Linked DNA regions of Homo sapiens: region 1 is linked to region 2. Evidence: fine-mapped expression QTL. A gene starts in region 2. The other region holds a variant in brackets. All regions are shown on one strand. Distances are between the middles of the regions. Region 1 overlaps SETX (senataxin). Region 2 holds the start of SETX (senataxin).

Region 1 (8,941 bases), 70 kb after region 2:
CTGGTTTATGCAGGCACCCCACAAGCCCTTTCCCCAACATGAGAGAACTGCTTCGTTTATTTTATCTCATCATTTTTCTTGAAACTATTTTGCTATGGAATGTCCTACTGAACATAGTTTGAAAATGTTACTGTAATAGAATCTCAACTCTGTAGTGTACTGTTTAGATGGCCTTGCTAACCTTTATTAGGTAGAAATGATAACTACTTGCCTTATAGGATTGTTAGGAACAATATCTGAAATAATGTATAAGAAGTTTGTGGTGTAGTCCCTGGTGTCTGGTTAATTGGAAGTTCATGTTTGCTCCCTTCTCTGATTATTAACATATTTACTTAGAAATATAGATACTATGTATAGAGACAGGATTGATCAGCAGTGTCCTTATTAGTCCTTAACTGTGATTCTTATCAACAGGAAACTGTGGAGATATAAATTTAGTACGACTGGGTCCAGAAAAGTCTATTAATAGTGAGGTTCTAAAGTTCAGTTTGGACAGCCAAGTAAACCACAGAATGAGTAAGTACTGAATGTGGTATATACTAGTGTTTTCTCTGTTTTGTTTGGTGGAAAATGACTTGGGCACTAAAGGTAATTTGAAGCCTCCAGAATTAGTCTGGCTTTGGGAACTAATTTTCCTTCTCATTGTGTTGTATATGTGTGTGAGTTTGTTAGAATTAGAATAGCATATAATTTTTTATTTGTTATTTTTATTAGAAAAAGAGTTACCTTCTCATGTTCAGGCGATGCATAAAAGAAAGGAATTTCTAGATTATCAGCTGGATGAGCTTTCCCGGCAGCGAGCTCTATGCCGAGGTGGACGGGAAATACAGGTATCTTTGCATTTCTTGAATAATAACTCAGGTATACGAACTAGTTAACAAGTTTTTTTTGAGACAGAGTCTTGCTCTGTCTTCCAGGCTGGAGTGCAGTAGCACAATCCTGACTCACTGCAGCCTCACCTTCCTGGGTTCAGGTGATCCTCCTGCCTCAGCCTCCCGAGTAGGTGGGATTACAAGGTTGTGCCGGCACACCTGGCTAATTTTCTGTATTTTTAATGGAGATGGGGTTTCACCATGTTGGCCAGGCTAGTCTCGAACTCCCGGCCTCAAGTTGATCTGCCCACCTCAGCATCCCAAAGTGCTGGGATTACAGGCATGAGCCATTGCGACCAGCCTAATTAATGAGTATTTAATGCCCTTTATTTATTGGGGAATGGCATGATTCATGTATAAAAATGTGTACTAAGACACTAAAAATGTGTCTCAGATTAACACATTTCTTTCTGCTTTTTTTTTTTTTGTCCTTTTGGTTTTAATTTTTTTTTTCATTTTTTCTTTTATTAAAATTACTTTTGTTAAAAATCTTTTTAAAAACTTTTTTGTAAAGGGCAAGATATTCTAGTAAAGATTTTAGGCTTTGCAAGCCATATGGTTGGTTTCTGTTGCAGCTATTCAACTCTGCTTTTGGTAGCACAAAGGCAGCCATAGATAATACATAAACAAATGGATGTGGCTGTGTTCCAGTAGAACTTTATTTACGAAAATAGATGGGGTGTTGCGTTTTTGTTTGTTTTTGAGATAGGGTCTCACTTTGTGGCCCAGGCTGGAGTGCAGTGGTGCAGTTGTGGTTCAATTTAGCCTCAAGCTCTTGGACTCAAGTGAGCTGTCTTTCTGCCTCAGCCTCTTGAGTAGCTGGGACTACAGCCGTGTGCCATCATGCCTGGCTAATTTTTTTGTTTGTTTTCTGTAGAAACTGGGTCTTGCCATGTTGCCCAGGGTGGTCTGAACTTCTTGCCTCAAGCAGTCCTCTCACCTTAGCCTCCCAAAGTGCCAGGATTACAGGCATGAGTCCCTGCACATGGCCTTGCATTTGGCTTATAGGCTGTACTGCCTTATATTAAAGCTATACTGAGTTTATTAGTTGCCTTTCAGTTGCATGTTGAGCCCAGTTCAAATTAGGTTAGACAGAAAGGGAATTAGCTTCAGTATGGGTGGATCCAGAGGGTCACATGATATCATTTCTCCACTCCATAATTTGTTTTTCTGTGTGTCAGCCATTTCTTCTGAGAAAGGTGAGTGTCAGCATCTCAGGGCTTCCACCATCTCAGCTTTGAAACCCCAGAGGGAGAGAAAGTCTTTCTCTTAGCATCCATATATCCAAAGAAGCAGTTAGTTTAGTCCCTGGGTGAGCAAGCAGGTCTAATCCCTATTTTTAAGAAGATGGGTGCATGATTGGCCAGGCCTGTGTTAGATGCCCATCACTGTGGCCAGAGGAATGGTTGGGGTGTGATTTACAGCCTCATTTGAATCACCTGGAAGTTAAGGGTGGCGTGATGCTCCCAGTGCTGGAATGCTAAGCAGACAGCTCACGTGCAGCGCACAGAACACAGCTGAGTCTTACGCAGCAGCATACAGAGTGTGTCAGGACTCCAGTGGTAAAGAGGAAATAAGCTGGGTAAATACATTTTTCATTGGTGAAATACAGGCTCTTTTAAAATTAGAGGTAGTCCATTGGAAGGCATTTAAAAATGCTTAGTTTAGTTTTAATTGTGACATTTGAATTTTTTTCCAGAGGCAAGAATTAGATGAAAACATTTCCAAAGTTTCTAAGGAAAGGCAGGAACTTGCTTCTAAAATTAAAGAGGTAAGTAGTTCACCTGTAGCATTTTCTTGATTTTTTTTTTTTTCTTTTTAAAATTTAAGTATGACTGTTCAGACAAGCTATGGGCTTTTATTTATTTATTTTGGAGACAGAGTCTCACTCTGTCTCTCAGGCTGGGGTGCAGTGGCATGATCTCAGCTCACTGCAACCTCAGTCTCCCATGTGGCTGGGATTACAGGCGTGCACCACCATGCCTGGCTAATTTTTTTTTTTTTTTTTTTTTGAGGTGAAGTCTTGCTCTGTCACCAGACTGGAGTATAGTGGCGTGATCTTGGCTCACTGCAACCTCTGCCTCCCGGGTTCAAGCGATTCTCCTGCCTCAGCCTCCCGAGTAGCTAGGATTACAGGCGTGTGCCACCACGCCCAGCTAATTTTTGCATTGTTAGTAGAGACGGGGTTTCACCGTGTTGGCCAGGATGGTCTGGATCTCTTGACGTCATGATCCTCCTGCCTCAGCCTCCCTCAAAGTGCTGGGATTACAGGCGTGAGGCACCACACCTGGCCTCTTTTGTGTTTTTTTTTTTTTGAGACAGAGTCTCACTCTGTTGCCAGGCTGGAGTGCAGTGGCACAATCTCAGCTCACTGCAACCTCTGCCTCCCAGGTTCAAGTGATTCTCCTGCCTCAGCCTCCCGAGTAGCTGGGACTACAGGTGTGCGCCACCACGCCCGACTAAATTTTGTATTTTTAGTAGAGATGGGGTTTCACCATGTTGGCCAGGATGGTCTCCATCTCATGACGTTGTGATCCGCCCACCTCGGCCTCCCTAAGTGCTGGGATTACAGGCGTGAGCCACCATGCCTGGCCCTTTTTTTGTATTTTTAATAGAGATGGGGTTTCACCATGTTGGCCATGCTGGTCTGGAACGTCCAACCTCAAGTCATCCCCCGTCTCGGCCTCCCAAAGTGTTGGCATTACAGGCGTGAGCCACCATGCCTGGCCAGCTATGGGCTTTTCTCAGTTACATTTTAAATTGTTATGAAAAATTACAAACATCTGTGGAAGTGGAGAAAATGGTGTAACAACATTTGCATTTTTTTCTTTAACCTAAGAATGAATTCTTACCACCATCTAAGATTTCTAAGAGGTGGTTATAAGTTATCTTTTTTGTTTTAAGTCTGGTAAATATTTAAATTCTTTCTTATAAGGTGCTCTATTTCTGCTTCCCATAAACTGCAAAAAACAATTATGATAATTATCATCAGATAAACAGTTAATGAAAATAGCTTTGGCCAGGCGCGGTGGCTCACGCCTGTACTCCCAGCACTTTGGGAGGCCGAGGCGGGCGGATCACGAGGTCAGGAGATTGAGACCATCCTGGCTAACACAGTGAAACCCCGTCTCTAATAAAATACAAAAAATTAGCTGGGCGTGGTGGTGGGCACCTGTAATCCCACCTACTCGGGAGCCTGAGGCAGGAGAATGGCGTGAACCTGGGAGGCAGAGCTTGCAGTGAGTGGAGATCGCGCCACTGCACTCCAGCCTGGGTGACAGAGCGAGACTCCGTCTCAAAAAAAAAAAACAACAAAAAAAATAGCTTTGTGGGTGTTTTCACTATTAAAAAAAAAAAGTCACCTGTATGAGCTTTAGGATGAGGGTGGCAACTGTGAGCCCTCC[A/G]GAGCTCCAACCTGGATAGAAGTAGAGTGATGGTGGGCAGAATTCGGCAAAAGAAAGTACAGCACTTTGATATTTGGTTTTTGTTTTTTGCAATTCTTGGGTTAGAGCATAAACTCCCTGTACTTGTGTTGGATCATAAGACTCCTGTAACATTTTGTAGCTTTTCTCCAGTATTTTTTGGATGTGAAAATATCCTGTAAGATTTAGACTCATTGAAGCTTGGCCGAGCCAGGTGTATACCCTGATTGTCAGAATGCAGCCCTAATCAAACCACACTGGGGTCAGGGAAAGAGGGTAATAGTAACTGATGACGTTAGTAGTATTTTTGCTGAAGTTTCCTCCTGAATGGATTATGATCTTTCTCTATGTGACTAAAATATAGTTGAATTTAATGCATATTTTCATTAGCAGTTTATTTAAACTAAAAGTTATGTGAAAGCTTTTGATTAAACAGATTTTAATCAGATTTTAAACAGAACCCCAGATTAATCTTTCCTGAGTCAAGGATGAAGTCCATCTTCACAGATGTTTTTTGCTGCTCATCACATGTGTTCTGTGGGCCATGAAACTATGCTCAGCAGTTGTACTCACTAGGTGGCTGAGGACAGTGTCTGACAGTGCTTTACTGTGTGAGCCGTGGAGGACCACAGTGCCACCCTCTTCCTAAAGCTCACACGAATGCCTTGAATTCCATGGTTGAATATATCGTATGTGCTGAGATGAATCACCACTACTTCTTAGTAGCAAAAAGCAGCAAACTGAATCTCTGCTGGAAATGCTGATTGACTGAGCAGTGTAGGTGTGACTGTGAGGCGTCACTCACGTCCGGCTCCATCACAGCACACTGCGTTAGAGAGGGAGACCAGACTGTTCCTTACTGTGGAAATAGAGGATTTGTCAGGTTCACAGGCATTTTTGTTAGTACTAGCAAAAGCACTAAAAAAAGACAGGGCAATATTATATACTTAAAAACTAACAGAAAAATGTACATTCAGGCTGAATTCCACCCCTGGTTTTACTCATATAATTCACAACTCAGAATTATTACATCTCTACTTCAGATACCTACCTACATATATCTGACTACAGGAAGGATTGTAATCTACTTTGACCAAATCAAACCCTGGATAAAAATTTTTAATGTGCTTAAATCATATTCTGTGTTTCAGCCGCGAAGCACACATTCTTTCTGCTTTGTGATTATCTTAAATGTTTCTGCTGTTTCCTAGATTTGAGGGTTTCCCCTAACTTTTACTAAATATTTTTCTGTCATAAATCTATTTTAATAAATAGTGAGTGTTTTATAGTAAACATAGGCCTGTCATAGTCAAGGATTGATGTACAGCTGAATATTGATTTAACCTTTGTTCTCTTAGGTTCAAGGACGCCCACAGAAAACACAGAGTATCATCATCTTAGAGTCCCATATCATCTGCTGCACGTTGAGCACAAGTGGTGGTTTACTACTTGAGTCTGCTTTCCGTGGGCAAGGGGGTGTCCCCTTCAGCTGTGTCATTGTTGATGAGGTCAGTGAACGGTCAGCCATACAACTTTGACTACTACTATGAGGAGTAAGTCTTAGATGAATTGTGGCTGCTGAAATGTTGAGGAAATGTGTTTTTTTTTTTTGCATCTGATTTTCACTTGCTATTACCTGTGTATTCCCTTATGTAGAAATATACTCCTTAATGACCCTCCATAGTGAAAGTGGATTTTCCAGTATTGGGGGTTAGTCTTGAGGATGACTGATGGTTTCTAACAAAATCTCTGCTGAGTGACTGTCTCACTCCTGCTTAGAATATCTCTGGTAACCTTTTGAAGTAGTTTTAATATAATTTTGGATAGCTTTGAGCCACAGTATGTTCACCTGATGTCTTTTATTCCTAGTTCACTCTTTGAGCAAACATTTATTGGGTACGTACTGTTTGTCAGAACGTAGAGTCAGAAGACAAAAGAGATGGAGCAGGAGATACCAGAGAATTGAGTGATCAGGAGACCCAAGATCCAGTTTTCACCAGAAGGAAAGGACAAAAAGTGGAAATGATTAAATAGTTGAAGAAAATGTCATTGAATTTAAGAGAAATTTGAGTCTTGTCATCAAAGAGGCATGCTGAGGAACAAGGAAGAAAGATATGGGGAAACACACTCATGGACGCTCCTAATGTGATTTCTGAACCTCAAATACAAAGTTTTGAAAAGGGCCTGGGCATGGTGGTGCACACCTGTAATCCTGGCACTTTGGGAGACTGAGGAGGGTGGATCGCTTGAGCCCAGGAGTTTGAGACCAACCTGGGCAACATGGTGAAACCTTGTCTCTACTAAAAAGACAAAAATGAGCCAGGAGTTGATGGTGTGTGCCTGTCATTCCAGTTATTCGGGAGGCTGAGGTGGGAGGATTGCTTGAGCCCGGGAGGCGGTGAACAACGATCATGTCATTGCCCTCCAGCCTGGGTGACAGAGTGAGACTCTCTCTCTCAAAAAAAAAAAAAATAAGTTAAAAAATAAATAAAAAATTTAAAATAAAGTTTTAAAAGGACTTTAAAGGAGAAAAATTTTTCAGGCTCATGCCCAGCAGGAACAAAAAGCACGCATCTAGGATGTGCATGGCCTTCTGAACTTACGGCTGGTTCCCAAGTGGTAGTGGCCCCGTTGGTGGCTGACTTCAAAAATACAAGTTTGATTTTTTTTTTAGACATGTTTGGAGAGTTTACTTTTTATTTATTTATTGTTTTTTTTGAGACGGAGTCTTGCTTTTTTTTTTTTTTTTTTTAGAGACGGAGTCTGCACTCACCCAGACCGGAGTGCAGTGATGTGATCTCGGCTCACTGCAACCTCTGCCTCCTGGGTTCAAGCAGTTCTCCTGCCTCAGCCTCCCAAGTAGCTGGGATTACAGGCACTTGCCACCACGCCCAGCTAATTTTTTTGGTTGCGCCATGTTGGCCAGGCTGGTCTTGAACTCCGGACCTCAGGTGATCCACCCACCTCGGCCTCCCAAAGTGCTGGCATTACGTGTGTTAGCCACTGCACACAGCCTGGAGGGTTTATTTTGTTGGTTTTGTTTTGTTTTTTTGTTTTCAGGGAAAATTTGTATTTTTGATATTTGGTGCAGGAGAAGTGTGATACTTTTCTGAATGGTTAGAACTTTAATCAGATAAACTATATGGATAAATAGCAAAGATTGTTAAGACTGCCTCTCTCTTCTGTATCTTACCAAGGCTGGACAGTCTTGTGAAATTGAGACTCTTACTCCACTCATCCATCGCTGCAATAAGCTCATCCTAGTAGGAGATCCTAAGCAGCTCCCTCCGACAGTCATCTCTATGGTAAGTTTTTTATGTTCAGATTGCTTTAAAATGGAAGGGGCTTTTTAAAATTTTTGTTTTCAGGAGGGAGAGACATCTTTCTTGGATTGGCCTCTTAATTTGGAGGGAAAAGTAAGCAGTAACTAAGAAAAGAGAAGCACTTAATAAATTTTAAAAAATGCCTAAAAATGTCCATTTGGTCATAGTTGTTCTTCTGTGTATGTGTGGCAGAAGCAGTGTGGCAGGGACTTGGAAGCCTAGATGGATGACGTGCCATGGAAACCAAGCTTTGGGAAAGGCAGTGTGCATGTCTGCCTTTTTTAAGTCTCTTAAGAGCTGAATCTGATTTATTTTAATCATACAAACACCAAAACAATAATAAAAGAAAAACTTCAGAAATAAAGAGAAGAATCCTACCCTCCTCATTTTTGTTTAAATATGTACAAATTGAGGAAAACATGAAGTTAAATTAATTTTGGAGTACATTTCCATTTTTAGAATTTGGTATTCTAGTGTTAATACAAGAACATGTCTGTGCCCTTCACATCATCTGAAAGTGAAGGTACAGGGGAAAAAAAGACTCAATTACAAGCTCTGACTTTGGGAAGAGAAGAACCAGACTGTAGTCTACTCTTCTCTGTTGGTTTTTTTTAATCTCATGAAAGATTCTCCTGGAAATGCACATTAGAATCAGGATCCAGTAGATGTTTTGAAGTAATCTGAAGAGGTTTTGAAATTTAATGAAATGTGTATTTTTTACTAATAACATAGATTATTTATACAGATAATTGAGCAGTGGCTTCATAAATAATCCTAGAGAACAGATCATTTTCAAAGCATTTTTGTTGAAGCTTGGAATGAATGCAGGTGGTTATCGTTAGTGGTTTTTGATTTCGGAATTATTCAGAATGATAGTGCAGTTCTTTGTATGACATTTGAGCGCAGGTACATGATCATGTTAGAGTGTGGCCCAGAAGCACACCCGTCACCCAGTGAAAACCCGTGTGTGTAGGGAAGAACTGCTGCAGGTAACTTTGTTCACGGAGAATAATGAAGAGCAAATTCTGTATCCCATTTCTTTAAATGATGCAGGATTTCATTGAAGGGCCTTGGCATATAGTGAAAAGAGAGATTGTTAATGGGCCTCAACTTTACTGCCTACTTCAATGATTGATAAAAACAACAAAAATTAGAAAAAAAAAATCCATTTGTGCTGTTTAAATTGTTGTACAAATAAAACAGGCTATTTTGAGAAAATAATTACAAAGTTCATTTCCATAAGGTGCCTTTTTTGACCACCTGTTTCTAGTGGTAATTACAGTGAAAGTGAGTATTTTTAACAGATATTGCTAGGCATTTGTGT
Region 2 (8,941 bases):
ACTCTGGACAAGATGCCATCCCTTTGCAGGGTATACACTCACACACACACCCATGCTCACTCAGGCTAGGACAATGTAGACATGCCAATCAACCTAACTGGCACATCTTTGGAATCGGGAAGGAAATTGGAGTACCTGGAGGAAACCCACACAGACATGGGGAGAAGGGGCAAACTCCACACACAAAGTGGCCTCGGGGCCAGGCACGGTGGCTCACACCTGTAATCCCAGCACTTTGGGAGGCTGAGGCAGGCGGATCACGAGGTCAGGAGTTCAAGACCAGCCTGGGCAACATGCTGAAACTCCGTGTCTACTAAAAATACAAAAATTAGCTGGGCGTGGTGGTGCGTGCCTATAATCCCAGCTACTCAGGAGGCTGAGGCAGGAGAATTGCTTGAACCGAAACCTGGGAGGCGGAGCTTGCAGTGAGCCAAGATCGCATCACTGCACTCCAGAGCCTGGGCTACAGAGGGAGATTCCGTCTCAAAAAAAAGCCTTGAGCAGGAATGGATTTTTTTTTTCTCATCAATGTTATAACAAAACCACATTGAACAAAATGATCTTATTAGAGAACCTGCTATACTTAATATTGTTAAGGTGTCAATTGATTCCCCAGATGTATCTAAAAATACAATTCAATCCCTATAAAAATTCCAACTGCTTGTACTTATTTATTTGCAGAAACGGGACAAGCCAATTCTAAATATTCACATGGAATAGCAAGGGACCTTAAGTAGCTAAAACAATTTTGAAAAAGAACGATACTGGAGGCCTCATACTTCCCAGTCTTTTTATTTATTTATTTATTTATTTATTTATTTATTTATTTATTTATTTATTTATTTTTGGAGATGAGGTCTCACTCTGTCGCCTCGCCTCTCGGGTTCAAGCCATTCTCCTGTCTCAGCCTCCCAAGTAGCTGGAACTACGGGCATGCACCACTAAGCCTGGCTAATTTTTGTATTTTTAGTAGAGACCGGGTTTCACCATGTTGGCTAGGCTGGTCTTGAACTCCTGACCTCAGGTGATCTGCCCACCTCAGCTTCCCAAAGTGCTGGGATTACAGGCCTGAGCCATTGCGCCTGGCCATGTTTATGGTTTTATCAGCTTTAGAAGTTTGTAATTTGTACTTATTTATTCATTCCAAATAAGTATTAATTTTCATTTCTAATTTTATATTTACAAAGTCTATTGCAGTGCTTCTGTTTAACATTCTATAGGTTGTGTAAGTTTTGGGCTCAACAATTCCTGAATGCACCTTGAATCAATGAGTCTCAGGACATAACATTGAGTGTAAAAAGCAATTTGCAGAAAAATACATCCTCCATAATTCCATATACAGAGTTAAAAAGCATGTAAAATTTATATGTTGTTCACAGACAAAAAATGTGGGAAGATGATAAGGCCTACAGAGGGCTTCAGGGACAGGAGGAAATTATGACTTTTGTGGGCTCTGGGCACAAGTTACCTTCATGGCACTTTTCTCCATTAAAAAAAATGATAAAAATTATATTTTATGGCCGGGTGCGGTGGCTCAAGCCTGTAATCCCAGCACTTTGGGAGGCAGAGGCGGGCGGATCACGAGGTCAGGAGATCGAGACCATCCTGGCTAACACGGTGAAACCCTGTCTCTACTAAAAATACAAAAAATTAGCCAGGCGTGGTGGCACGTGGCTGTAGTCCCAGCTACTCGGGAGGCTGAGACAGGAGAATGGCGTGAACCCGGGAGGCGGAGCTTGCAGTGAGCCGAGATGGCGCCCCTGCACTCCAGCCTGGGCGACAGAGCGAGACTCGTCTCAAAAAAAAAAAAAAATTATATTTTATGACTGTGGTGGTATAAAGGCTGTGTTGGTATATTAGTGTTATATGATAAAACAAAATATGTTCAAAATATTTGACAGGATGAAGAAGTAGAAAAGAGGAAAATAACGGTCAACGCGTGCTGCTCCTTAGACGGTTAAATTTGCATAACGGCCACCACGCCCTTCCAACAAGCCACGCCCCCTTGCTAGAATCTTCCTTCGCCTTGGGCCTTTCCCGCAGTGTTCCCCTGGGCTTGCTCCTCATCCTCGGGCCAGGGTTCTCCTCGGTAAGGCTGTATCTGACCCACTTTTCCCAAGCTGGCCCATCTCAGCCTCTTTTTTTATCGCCTGAGTCACCACTACTAATTGTTTAATTTCCCTGTCTCCTCTATTAACTGTAAGACGGTGACGCTGCATCATCGTGGTCAGTAGTAGGCGTTACTAAAAGGGGGTAGGGGCCGGGTGCGGTGGATCACGCTTGTAATCCCAGCACTTTGGGAGGTCGAGGCGGGGCGGATCACTTGAGGTTGGAGTTTGAGACCATCCTGGCCAACATGGTGAAACCCCATCTCTACTAAAAACATGAACATTAGCCGGGCGTGTGGCACACGCCTGTACTCCCAGCTACTCGGGAGGCTGATGCAGGAGAATCATTTGAACCCAGGAGGCGGAGGTTGCAGTGAGCCGAGACTGCGCCACTGCACTTCAGCTTGGGTGACAGAGCGCGACTCCATCTCAAAAACAAAAAAGGGGGGGGATAGGCTTTCCAGTGGATTTTACTCATTTTTATTTATTTATAGACTTTTCTGAGACAGGGTCTTGCTTTGTTCCCCAGCCTGGAGTGTAGTGGCACAGTCACGGCTCACTGCAGTCTCGATCTCCCGGTCTCAATGGATATCCACCCCCTGCCTCAGCCTCCCAACAAGCTGGGCCCACAGGTGCTAATTTTTTTTTTTTTTTTTTTTTTTCCGGAGAGAGAGTCTCGCTCCTTTGCCCAGGCTGGAGTGCAGTGGTGCGATCTCGGCTCACTGCAACCTCTGCCTCCCGGGTTCAAGCCATTCTCATGCCTCAGCCTCCTGAGTAGCTGGGATTACAGGCACCCGCCACCACGCCCAGGTAATCTTTTTATTTTTAGTAGAGACGGAGTTTCACCATGTTGGTCAGGCTGGTCTCGAACTCCTGACCTCAGGTGATCCACCCGCCTCGGCCTCCCAAAGTGCTGGGATTACAGGCGTGAGCCACCGCGCCCGGCCTCGGTGGCTGAGTTTTAATTTTTTTTTGTACATACGGGTGTCTCGCTATGTTGCACAGGCTGGTCTCTGAACTCCGGGCTCAAGCGAGCCTCCCGCCTGGGCCTCCCAAAGTGGTGGGATTAGAAGCGGGAGCCACCGCACCAGCGAGGGATTTACTCTGCTGTGTTGCGCATCGCGCGCATTGTTCGCAAGACCTAAGGTCTCCCTTTCTTGTAATATAAAGGATATACACATATTCCTCCGAAATTACACGTTTATGTAATTTACATTTCAGGTCTTTAAAGGAAATCTAAAGAGAAAAATTACTTCGTCACCGTAGTACATCCGCTGAGACACCTGAGGCGTGGAAAAAAGAAGAAAAAAGAGGGAACGGAAATGGCCAGCGGGTAAGGGCTGACCCCACCCGCAGCAGAGCTCATCCCGGAGCCGCCCCACCCGCAGGAAGCCCCGGGCGGGGCCGAGGTCAAGGTTCCGCGGCAAACTCTCCCCGTCCACCCTGACGGGGACTCGGGATTGGTCGGGCCCCAGCTGCCCGGACGTGACGCCAGCGCCCGGCGTGGGCGGTGCACCGCGGCCGCTCTTCCCATGCCCCGCCCCCTGGGGGGCACCAAAACCAGAAAGCAGCGGCCGGGGCGGGGCCTGCGGCCGGCCGACTCAGCGCGGGGGCGGGGCCTACCTCGCGGCAACAGCTGGTTGGTAGCTGCGGCTGCGGGCCCGCACTTCCGCTGGTGGCCTAGAGCGGGGCCCGGTATGGAGGTGGGCTAGAGGCCGACGCCAGCCAGAGAGCGGTGAGGGTAGCGGCGGGCTGGAGGCCGTAGGTCGGGCGGGCGTGAGCGCAGGCGCGGCTTGTGCTTGCAGGGCCGCTTCGGGGAACCATCGCGGCGCCTAGGTCCCGGTGGGCGGATGGGGGAAGAGTCGGCGCGGGCTCGGCCGCTTCCCTCGGTGCGGGGGCGGGAGCACCCCTCGACGGCTGGCGGCCGCCTGTTGCCTTCCTGCGCGCTGGACCCGGCCGCTGCGACCCCCTGTCCTTCCGTTGTCTACACTGCGGTCTCGTGTGAGCTGTTTTTGGTGTGGATACTGCGTAGTTTCCTTGGGGCTGAGCGGGAGGTCTCGGGGTGGAAAGTGTCGGTTCCCTCCACACGCTCGTCTGCCTCTCGCCTGGAGTCCCTCCCTTTGTTTTTTTTTCTTTTTTCTTTTTTTTTTTTTTTTGAGACGGGGTCTCGCTCTGTCACCCAGGCTGAAGTGCAGTGGAACAGTCACGGCTCGCAGCAACCTCGTCTTCCTGGGCTCCAGCGATCCTTCCGCCTCATCCCCCCGAGTAACTGGGACCATAGGCGCGCGTCACCACGCCCGGCTAATTAAAAACAAAATGTGTTGCAGAGACAGGGCCTGGCTGTGTTTCCCAGGCTGAGCTCAGCTGCTCCAGGGATCCTCCGAGCCGCCGCGCCCGGCCGGTCCCTTCGTTTGGAGGAGAGTCTGTTTCTCCCACTTGGAGGGGCTGGAGCTTTTGCTGCTGGCCACAGGACTTTGTCCGTCCTCCCCAACTTCTGGGGATCTAAGGATGTGCCCAGCAATTTGCACGACCCAAGTGAAACGGGGGTGACTGCCTTGAGGGAAAAGAGCTCCACAAGGAGAAGGCCGAGTGTGGTATTTGATAAGTGACACAGCTGAGGATCCTAGGATTGATGTTACCTGCGCGGGCTAATAACTTGGGGGATTTTTGGCTCGGTGCCTAGCTGTCCCCGTGAGTGGGGACAGCCCCTTGTGGAACTGGGAGTCAGAATTGCAGTTCTGCTGTTTCCTGGAAGTCCACAGCCAAGTTGTCTAACCTATCTGGGCTTCCTCATCAGCCAGCAGTATCTGTCTGTAATAGGATCGATACCAGGCTCAGATGGGATATAGAGTATAAATGCCACTTACCAATTTCGTTTTTTGTTTTTTAATTTCAGAAATGTTCTTTTGGGGCCAGAGTCTGGGCATATATGAATGCAAATCCGTGTTTGTTCACAACTAAGCCCAGCTGAGACGATCACTTTTCTGTAGGCCATTTGTCCAGGTAATAATTTTTTTTTTTAGCAGGAGTTCAGAGCACCAAGGTAAGTGCAATGATGGAAACATGTGCAGAGTCCTAAAGGGACAGAGAAGAAGGTCATCAGAGATAGACTGGAAGAGAGGACGGGTCGGACAGGCCCCCCCCCCAGACGTGATGACACTCAGGAAGAGCTTGCACACTGGTTGTTCTCAAATCCAGCTTTCTCTTCGAATCTTAGTGGAGTTCTTTAAAAGGGAAACAATTTTATCCATAGGATCTTTTCTACTTTTTTTTTTAAGTTCCTGAGGTAAGTCTGATGTGTATTCACAGTTAAGTACCGGGCAGAGGTAGGAGGGTGGGTTTCCAAGGCCAGTGGAAGAGCTTCCATAAAGGCAGGGAATACCAGTCACCATGAATGGTTTTAGGAAGAGCAAGTCAAGGGAGGTAAGTGTGGAGGAAAGAGATGATGTGGAAGCTGGATCATCGCGGGCCTTGTGTGTGTTGAGCTCAGCAATTTGAATTTTATCCCAACATTGGAGGAGGAGTCATTTGTGCTTTCGAAGTCCAGTTTGGGGCTTTGGCCTCTGGCAGCATTTTGGAGGAGGAATTGATGGCGATCAAAGAAGAAATAGATCATTTAGGCTTCTTCAGTAATCCAGGCAAATGATGAAAATGTACTGAACTAAGGCAGTGGCGGTTGCACTGAGAAGAAAGTAGAGATGTAATTAAGGGGTAGGCTCTGGAGCTCAGAGATTGCGGCTGAGGGAGAAGGAGCGTATAGGATAATTCCTAGGTTACTGGTTTGAAAATTGAATGTATGGTAATGTCATCAACAAGGGAATATAGAACAAATAACAGATTTAAGGGAAGGACTTCGTTGGGTTCTGGTCATGTTTACTTTGAGGTGCCTGTCAGATATGTGAGTAGAGATACACTGTATGCAGTTGGATATTGAATATATCTGGAGTTCTAGGCTAGGCTGTCAGTTATTGAGTAGGTGGAACAGTGCATCATTTCACTCAACCTCCCCAGTAGCTGCGACTACAGGTGCATACCACCATGCCCAGCTAATTTTTATATTTTTAGTAGATACGGGGTTTCACCATGTTGGCCAGGATGGTCTTGATCTCTTGACCTCGTGATCCCTCACGCCTCGGCCTCCCAGAGTGCTGGAATTACAGGTGTGAGCCACTGCGCCCTGCCTGCATTAAGTTTTACAATACATTCTCAGTCTGGGCAGCTTCAATCTAGGCAGTAGTTGAAGCAGTGGTTTGAAGTAGGCCGCCCAGAAAGAGTACTGAATGAAGAGGTGAGAATTCTCAGGACAAGCCTTCGAAAACTTTAGCATTTATATGAGTAACAAAGGCAGGGGTAATTATGAAGGTGATTGGGTAGAAGTGGTGTCCAAAAAATGGTGTGTTGTAGGTAAGGAAAGGATGGGCAGCATTTTCATATGCTTTAGCAGAGTCAGGTCAGGAACCTATTGGATTGGTAATGTAAAGATTGTTAGGGACTTCACATTCAGTGGAGTGTAAGGGTAGAAGCCAGAGTGCAAAGGAGCTGAAGAGCTGGGAGGTAGTGAATCTAAACTTCCAGATGTTTAGCTGAGAAGTGTAGAAGAAAGAGATTGTTATTTGAAGTTTCTGGCTAGTTAATGTTGAGAAATGGATAGCCTAAGGATAAGTCTGTAGAAAATTACAGTAATACCTATGGTGAAGCATCCTATATTTTTGGTTTTGACACATTAGCTCTCTTTTTGGTGGGTGCTCAGAGAGTTGCTTTAATTTTGGTTTTGCAACTTGAGTATTGTCTGGACACACCCATTTGTCATTCACTAATGATTGCAAGCCGTTACAGTCTGATGAAACTAACAAAATAGACCTCAAGAAGAACTGAGTTGTATAAAAGCTTAAGAGGATTCACAGTAGTTTAGAAGCAATAATTTTCTCCTTAAAGACAAAATATGCCCTATTGAGGTTTCCTGGGCTTAGCCATTAGGCCAGTGATGATTTTAAATTTGAAGACAAAACCACACACACAGCCTTTTGAAGAAGAACCATGGAAGCACATGTTCTCTTGTTGGTGTGCTCTGCAGCAGTATTCTCCGTTATCTTCTAGCGGCCATGACACTCACCTATTTTGGTAGTAACTCCTATATATTTTGAGAAAATTTAGTCTTGCTTTTTTGGTTGTGGAAATAGGCTAGTTTTCTAAGTGAAATAAAAAGCAAATTCTGTAATTTTCTTAATAGAAGGTTTCTTTTGTTGTCTCCTTTGTTAGTACTTATTTTAAAGTACACAACATTTGGAGCTTCAAGTAAGGTAAGTGGGAAAAGAAGTATGCAACATTTTATTTGCATGGTAGTCTCACTTAAGTTTTTTAAAGCTTAAATTGGCTGCAGTCTGTTAGCTGCTGAAATCATGCTTCAAATGTTTGAGAAACCTCCATGAAGTTTCACTTTCTGTTCTTACGTCTTCTAAGTTCACTTTCCATATTAAACTAGGTTACCGGAAAAAAAAACAGCTTCTGCAAGCTGTTAACTTACTAGTAGTGTGATGTTGGCCTCTTAGGTATAAGTAATTCTTCTTTTGAATAAAATAATTTTAAATTCTGCAGAAATACATTGAAGACCTTATCCCATGTTACTTGGCATTTCCTAGTCTGCAGTGCCCTTGTACTAGAAGGCATTAATAAAATGTAATTGAGTTAGAGTTTGTGTCAGGAAAGGGCGGTACTCTGCGGCTATCACTGCATACTCTTTTTCCCCCCCACGTCGATGAGAACTGTGTAACTCATGTTATCCTTTTTCTCTGCTTTCAGGAAGCTCCTCATGTAGAACTTAGTGAAATTAAATTTCTTCTAAAGAAGTTTTGATTTTGTTTTTTGAAATCTCATTTTTAAATGTCCTTTTGTGTGTATGTACTTTAATGTTGAAAGCTACCCTAAATTCTTTTTAGAACCATGAAGAAAGTATACCTCTTCAAAAGCATAAGTAAAAGTAATATTTAATAAATTTTAAAAAATCAATTCATATGACAATGTATTTGATTATGCTTATGCATTTCTAAATAATTATTTAATTGTGGGTATAAGAAGAAATTAAAGAATTTTAAAAAATCACTTTATTTTAGGAACTAGCTTTATGCCACAGAAGCCTCAGCAGCCAAGCCTAGTTTCTGTTGAGATGTTTTATATTTCCTGTTGGTAAAGATTATGTATTCTGAATTTTAGGGTGACGGTGATACTCAAAAATCTCACACTGCCATGTTTCCATTCCCACATACTCAGTGTCTTCACTTAGGTTTCTTTTGTTTGTTTGTTTTGAGACAGAGTTTCACTCTGTCACCCAGGCTGGAGTGCAGTGGCGCAATCTTGGCTCACTGCAACCTCTGCCTCCCACGTTCAGGCAGTACTCCTGCCTCAGCCTCCCAAGCAGCTAGGATTGCAGATGCGCACCACCAGCTAATTTTTGTATTCTTTTTAGTAGAGATGGGGTTTCACCATGTTGGCCAGGCTGGTCTCGAACTGCGGACCTCAAGCAGTCTGCCCACGTCGGCCTCCCAAAGTGCTGGGCTTACAGGCATGAGCCACCGTTCCCAGCTTACTTAGGTTTTTTAACCTCCTTCTAACCTTTCTCCCTGAGTGGAGAGTTTTTAAACATTTTTAAAAACTGCCTCTCCTGTGAATTTTATTACCACCAATATATTGTGTCTCTCTTTATGTACTGTATGTTTATCTGAGCTTTATATCTAAAAAGAGGAGGGCTTTTTCACGTCCCACTAACTAGTTTTAGATCTCTTTGAGGGTGACATCACTCCTGATGAGAATGCTGAGCTAGGTCCATTCAGTTTATG

The links.
Region 1: its variant is fine-mapped to the expression of SETX in whole blood (TOPMed, PIP 0.99).

What each region holds. Positions count from the first base shown.
Region 1 is chr9:132,280,125-132,289,065 of GRCh38, reverse strand. It overlaps SETX (senataxin), which reads left to right. Exons shown (of 26, transcript NM_015046.7): 16 at 415-516; 17 at 715-830; 18 at 2,572-2,643; 19 at 5,653-5,802; 20 at 7,492-7,599. Among named protein-coding and RNA genes, the nearest start is that of SETX, 70 kb to the left of the region's middle. The variant A/G (reference allele first, on the strand shown) is at 4,277.
Region 2 is chr9:132,349,819-132,358,759 of GRCh38, reverse strand. It overlaps SETX (senataxin), which reads left to right and starts at 3,774. Exons shown (of 26, transcript NM_015046.7): 1 at 3,774-3,843; 2 at 5,005-5,111. RefSeq lists silencers at 3,475-3,864, 3,915-4,124 and enhancers at 3,509-4,008, 2,990-4,189, 4,009-4,510, 7,518-7,567.